2 linked regions of the Homo sapiens genome follow. The protein of the gene in region 2 interacts with the protein of the main gene of each other region in a pairwise test. Each region holds a gene or a part of one and is shown on either strand. Other genes may lie near its edges.

Region 1 (3,655 bases), on a different chromosome or scaffold from region 2:
AAAGACGAAGGTAACACTACAAAGCAGTAAATGCCATATACTATAGAACAGTGGTTCCAAAATTTTAGCACACCTGAAAATCACCTAGGAAACTTGTTTAAAATGCAGCCTTTAACCCAAGAAATTCTGTTTCAGAAGATCTCTAATAGTTCCCAGAACCAGTAATTTTTATAAACTTTCCAGTTGATTATGATATAGGTGGTCTAAGGAGAACACCTAGAAATAGACTATGGTGGCCAGGCGCAGTGGCTCATGCTTGTAATCCCAGCACTTTGGGAGGCCGAGGCAGGTGGATCACCTGACATCAGGAGTTCAAGACCAGCCTGATCAACATGGTGAAATCCCGTCTCCACTAAAAATACAAAATTAGCTGGGCATGGTGGCACATGCCTGTAATCCCAGCTACTCAGGAGGCTGAGGCAGGAGAATCGCTTGAACCTGGGAGGCAGAGATTGCAGTGAGCCGAGATCGCACCATTGCACTCCAGCCTGGGCAACAAGAGCGAAACTCTGTCTCAAAAAAAAAAAAAATATATATATATATATAGACTATGGTAAAAGATATCACAAGATAATGTCAGGAGGAAGAAAAAGAGGCAATGGTGTGATGTCAGTATAAGGTGTTACTTTTAGGGGGAAAATCTCCCAAACAACACTTCTGAGATAACATGTTTGTTTAAGCTATTAAGTACAATATGGGGCCTTGGTATAATTTCTGGATATCTCACCAAAACAGGTATCAGCCCAAAGGGCTGGCCACTATGTATCAATAGCTGATGGACCCATAACACTGCATGATCAGTTCTAATGCTTGTTTGTTTTTAGACAGACCATCCAATTTCCTGGATGTAGACATTCAGGAGGTAGAAAATGGGAAACATACATTTAGAGACAAATAACCATATAAGGGAGCGAACCGTTCACCAAATAACTTACTCTGCCCCACATTTCAGTGCCCCGATGCGTTTAGGTAGAGCCATGTTCTGACTGATAGATTGTGAGCAGAGATGATATGTGCCACTTTAAAAAGAAGCATTTAAGGAGCTGATGTGAAAAACCTTCCAGCATTTTCTCTTTACCCTTCTATGGCAATCTTAGAAGCCACAGGTTGAGATGGAAAGGTCACAGATAAAAGCAGACAGCATCCTTGGAAAGGAGCTGTCCTGGAGAGCTGCTGGATCCACAGTGGACTTTACAAGAGAAAGGAGCAAACTTTAGTGCTTAAGCTGCAGAGATTTCAGGGACTGTTACTGCGGCAGAATCTATCCTATTCTGACTAATACAATATGCTGTACTGTGGGAAGAGCTACACAATAGAAAATTGTATTTTCAGATCTATTTCCCTACCACCTACAATCATAGATGGCATTTTGTTCTGTGGCAACAGCTAGGCCTTTAGGGAACTCCACCAATATCCTGGTTATGGCTGATGGATAACAGTCAACCATTATTTAAAGATATTTTGATTGATTTTTTGATATAATAATGCGTTGCATTCCAGTTTAAAATGGCAGCTGGTTGGCAGTCCCTGAGCCTACCACTTCATCTCATCCAAGAAATAATGAGTGGGGGCCAGGAGTGGTGGCTCACACCTGTAATCCCAGCACTTTGGGAGGCCGAGGCGGGTGGATCATCTGAGGTCAGGAGTTGGAGACCAGCCTGGCCAACATGGTGAAACCCTGTCTCTACTAAAAGACAAGAATTAGCCGGCAGTGGTGGCACATGCCTGTAATCCCAGGAGGCTGAGACATGAGAATTGCTTGAACTCAGTGGGCGGAGGTTGCAGTGAGCCAAGGTCACGCTACTGCACTCCAGCCTGGGTGACAGAGCGAGACTCTGTCTAAAAAAAAAAGAAAGAAAGAAAGAAAGAGAAAAGAAAAGAAGAAAAAGAAAAAGAAAGAAAGAAAGACAGAAAGAAAAAAAGAAAGAAAGAAAAGAAAGAAAGAGTGGGGAGAGAATTTCACAAAGGAAGAAGTATCCAGTGTCAAGCTTGACAGTATCAAGTGCTGCAGTGAGATCAAGGAAGAGAAGAAATGGAAAAAGACCATTGCGTTTGATGTTTAAAGAAGTCACTGTACATCACCTAAGAAGTAATCATATACTAAAACGAATCAAGCCTGTAGACCCAACTACCACTTCACAGGAAATACACAGGAAAGAGGAACCTGTTAAATGATACCAAGCAATGTAATCAGCAAAGTCCTGATCATGGTGAATACTGCAGGATAAGGCCTAGTTTCTTCACCATACAAATTGCAAGAAAAAAGGAGGGAGAAAGAAACTTAACAGACATACCAACCAATTTCAATCTGTGGGCCTTACTTGGATCCTGATCCAAACAAACTAAATATTTTTAAATTGTGGCATTTATGAGACAATGGGATATTTGGACACTGACTATATTAAGGAATTACTGTTAATTTTTAAAATATGATATTATGATATGGAATTGTGGTTATGTTAATAAAATAATCCTTATCTATCAGAGGCACATATGATATATTTAGAGATGAAATAATATGATGTCTGAAATTTGCTTTGAAATAATCCCTGGGAGGAGGAGTAATGATGAAACAAGTTAGCCAGGTGTTGATCATTATTGAAGCTAAGTGGATGAGTACATCGGGTTTCATTTTGCTATTGTTTGAAAATTTACCTAATAAGTTTTTCTTTAAAAAAATATGAAATATGGGTTACCACTGGAGTTGGAGGAGGAAAGATGGAATATTCGGGGAAGAGGATATTGGAGCCTTCAAATATAAAGTTAGAATTTTATTTCTTAAGTGGAGTAAAAGAACGCAAGTATTTGTGATATTTCATTTTATATAGTCAACAAATGTTTCATAAATATATCATTGCATTTACTCAGTATTTATAAAACCCTAAAGGAAGAAGGGAAAGAAGAAATGAAAGGATGGAGAGAGGGAGGGAGGAAAGGAAAAAGGAAGGAAGGAGGGAAGGAAGGAAGGAGGGAAGGAGGGAAGGAAGGAAGGAGGGAAGGAGGGAAGGAAGGAAGGAAAGAAAGAAAAAGAAGAGGAAAGGAGAAGAAAGAAAAAGAAAGGAAAGGAGAGGGAAGAATCATAAACATAAAATTCAGGATAAGGTGGTTTACTTTTGAGCCAGGAGGGCAGTGATAAGTCAAGATTGAGATTTAGGTCATTATGATAATCCCATTTACTTTTGATAGGTACTTGCAGCTCAAGAGTGCAGGGTAGGCTGGCTGCAGTGGCTCACACCTGTAATACCAGCACTTTGAGAGGCCAAGGCCGGCTAATCGCTTGGGCCCAGGAGTTTGAGACTGGCCTGGGCAACATGGAGAAACCCTGTCTCTACTAAAAATAGAAAAATCAGCCGGGCATGGTGGCACATGCCTCTAGTCCCAGCAACTTAGAGGCTGAGGTTAGAGGATTGCTTGAGCCTGGGGCTGGGGGGCTGGCATTCGGAACTGCAGTGAGCCAAGATGGTGGCACTGCACTCCAGCCTGGGCCACAGAGCAAGACCTTGTCTTAAAAAAAAAAAAAGTGCTGGGCACGGTGGCTTACGCCTGTAATCCCAGCACTTTGGGAGGCCGAGGCAGGCGAATCACCTGAGGTCCGGAGTTCGAGACCAGCCTGACCAACATGGAGAAATCCGTCTCTACTAAAAATACAAAATTA
Region 2 (3,655 bases):
CATATGGACTTGAGAATTTTCACATTATGTCCATGGACACAGTGACCAATCCATATGCTACAACATGGAAGACAGCATTAAACTCTTCCCAACCCGATCCATCTGAATGGTTGGGCCAGGCAGCGTCCTCCCTAGGAGGCAGGGACACAGTAGTGAATGCAGCAGTCAAGCACTCCTGTCCTCGAGGAGCTTACATTCTGGGGGCTTCCCTCTGGCCAAGGCCCCAGTCAGACCCCAGGAGAGCATGATGGTCACTTCTCAGTACGGTGCCCACCAAGCTGCACTCTGCCTGGACCCAAGGGGAAAAGCACTGCCCCACAAGCCTGCTTTCAGAGCCACGTGCTGGGCAGGAGGCGTTCGGGTGAGTTATGTTCAATTCATACATGGAAGACTTTGAAAAACACATTACCTCTTCAAAAGTCACCTGACATTGTCACAAAGCTTTAAAACAGTCAAATCACCAAAGGAGTTCTAACTTTGCAGAACCTATTTTAAGCAAAAGGAGATCTGGGCCAAGACTGTGTAAAAGATGATAGAAACAAATACAATATAAGAAAGCACTGAAATTTATGACACTTGGGCTGGGCCTGGTGGCTCATGCCTGTAATCCCAGCACTTTGGGAGGCTGAGGCGGGCAGATCACCTGAGGTCCGGAGTTCAAGACCAGCCTGGCCAACATGGTGAAACCCCATCTCTACTAAAAATACAAAAAAACTTAGGCAGGCGTGGTGGTGCATATCTGTAATCCCAGCTACTCAGGAAGCTGAGGCAGGAGAATCACTTGAACCCGGGAGGCAGAGGTTGCAGTGAGCCAAGATTGCACCACTGTACTCCAGCCTGGGTAACGGAGTGAAACGCTGTCTCAAAAAAAATAAAAATAAATAAATAAGCTTATGACACTTGAATGAAATTATATGATGCCTGAGATTTACTTCGAAATAACCTGGGGTGGGGAGAGGGTGAAGGTTAATATTTATTGAACCTGAGGGATGAATAAAGGAGTGCTCATTATAGCATTTAAACATTTATGTATTATATATTTGGAAATTCCATAATATAAAGCTTAACCATTATGGCACATCCATATGATAGAATACTATGGTCATTGGAATTTTAGAACTTTAACATGAAAGAAACTTAAAATATCATGTACAGTTAAAAAAAGGGATTCTGAAACTGTATATACGGTTAGATCCCAATTATACTTTTATATATGAAGAAAACATTAAAACATCAGCCATGATTATCTTCCAGTTTTAGGGTAATGGGCAATTTATTTTATTCTTTGTCCTTTTCTGTATTTTCAAAATCTGAAAAACATTAAATGAAGACTCTGGATAAAGAGAACAGACGTCTCTACCTGGAAGAACTGGAGCTGCTTCTCTAGGCTCCAGAAGAACGGGTGTTTGAGCACATGCTTCGCTGAGGGGCGTTTCTGAGGATCCATCGCAATCATCTTCTCTATCAATTCACGTGCAATGACGTCTTCTATAAAGGAGGAAAATAAGCAACTCATGACTACCAGTCCAAAGCCACAGTGAAATACCAAAAACTTTAAAAAGCTGCACACCCTCTCATTTATGATTCTATTTACAGGAATTTATTCCAATAAAATAATTAGGAACAGACACAAAACCTCAGCCAAAGAGGTGAGTCCTCACTGCATGGTTTGTGAAGGAAGTGACTGTAAACATCCAGTATCAGAGGCCCAAGTGGATACACTACGGTGCCTCCCTACGCTGGGCCATGAGCTGTTAAAGTGCGGCTGTGACTAAATATGGATTGACGTGGAGAGAGATTCAAGGTGACGCTGAAAAACGTGCATGCTGCAAAACAGTATGCAGGATTTAACTGTATTTTTATAAAATATGCAATCACGTCTAGATAAATGACTGGAATAACGTATATGCAAAGGTATCAATAGCCATCATTCATCCCTGTATAATGGGAATATATGGGCCTTTATGCTAATCTGTGTTTTCTATAATAAGAAAAATTAAGCATAAACAAAACAATAATTTAGTTGTAATTTTTTCAAAAGGCAGCACTGGAGTGTCATGGGCCAATTACCACCCAGGAAAACCTGAAGTCTGGAAGAAAGACTTGTTGCACCCATACCAGGAGACCAGGAGGGTGAGGATAAAGCTTGTCTGTCCCCAGCCCAGCACAGACTGCACCTACTGACCACTCGCCATCCCAAGAGAGAAGACAATTTGTCTTCCCAAATGCCAGTGCAGGAAGGGACCTCTGATTATTCAACCCTCATGTCACCAGGTAGAAAAAGAAGGTCTCCAAAGGGGGCTTTGCCTAGGTCACACAAGTAGTTGGTGACCTGGAGGAACCTTGGAGCATCTCAGCTTTAGAAGGTGGCGCCCCAGAGATAACCCTACCAACCCTCTACCAGATTTGGCACAAGTCTGGAGGTCCTGAGGCCTGCGGGGTGAGCAGCTGGGGCACCACGGCCTCTGTGAGTGCAAAGGTGGCACCAGCCCAGCTCTGCAGGGCCACCTGAGGCAGCTGAGGAGCTGCTCCCAACCCCAACCCCTGGACCGCTCACCGTGCTTCTCTGGGTGCAAGCAGTCAAGGCTGCAGGCACCCAGGAGGATGTTGGCCTGCCGCTGCAGGGACTTGCCAAAAGGGTGGCTGCCCTCAGAGATTACGTAGTAAAAGACGCAGCCTGCAGAAAAGATGTCCACCGTGTAGGTCTGAAAAGAGACATGAGGCGTGAGAGGTCTGGGAGCAGAGTTTTCATCCTCACTCACAGTCAGGGAGGGAGGAGCATTGCTGCTGCTTCTGCCACCTAGAAGGTGTCCTGGGAGAATCAGCTGACATATGTGAGCTGCACAGAGCAGCGAGGGCTAACCTGCAGCACTGCATGGGTGTCAGAGGTCCCAGTGGAGAACCTGGGCTTGGAGCCACCTGGAAGCCCCTGGTTCCCTCTCATGTGAGATGAGGACACTGACAGCATGGGGCTGTTGTCAAAAGAGATGCATTAATATGCAAAAATGGTTGCTTACGACAGTGCTTGGCCCATCAAAAGCCCTCCTGGCTGTTATATATTCCTTACCCCCAACACGAAAGTGCTCACAGACAGGGTCTCTGTGTCGTTGCTTCCCTGCTGTACCCCCAGGGCCCAGAATGGTGCCTGCACACAGTAGGTATCAAAATTGCTAATAAGTGAATAAAACAGCTTATGATTCAAAAACAGCCCTAGAAAGAAACTATCTGACAAGTTACCAAGGAGGTCATGTTTGATGTTAATCCGAGAAAGCCTCTCACTTATCCCATGAAACCATTCTGTGTCTACAGAATAGCTTCCTTCGAGGGAAATGTACGTTTGTGTTTTTTAGCTCATGCTACCTGGGGTGTAATACCAAGGTGGTTCCTGAGCACAGCTTGGGTCCCTGTTAGTAGGCCCTGCCTCTGAGATTCTCCACCAGGTGAAGTGAGGGTCTAGTGTGAGGAAGCAGGGGCTCATCACCTCCCATGCTGGAGGAGACACACCTTGAACAACACAGCACTCTCATTCAGCCTCACAACAACCTTGTGAGGCGAGCAGAGCAAATGCTTTCATCCCCAGATGAGAACGTGGACAGAAAGGTTGCATGACAAGCTCAGGGTCACTGCTGGATGTGATAAACCAGGATGGGACTCA

What was found.
Region 1: the proteins of ERN1 (region 2) and SPATS1 interact in binary tests that used the Homo sapiens proteins (3 or more experiments, as listed by UniProt).

The regions. Positions count from the first base shown.
Region 1 is NC_000006.12:44,363,003-44,366,657, reverse strand, and holds part of SPATS1 (spermatogenesis-associated serine-rich protein 1), read right to left. Parts: intron 1-3,655.
Region 2 is NC_000017.11:64,046,498-64,050,152, forward strand, and holds part of ERN1 (serine/threonine-protein kinase/endoribonuclease IRE1 precursor), read right to left. Parts: intron 2,706-3,655; coding exon 2,558-2,705; intron 1,489-2,557; coding exon 1,361-1,488; intron 1-1,360. UniProt on the Homo sapiens protein: Serine/threonine-protein kinase and endoribonuclease that acts as a key sensor for the endoplasmic reticulum unfolded protein response (UPR).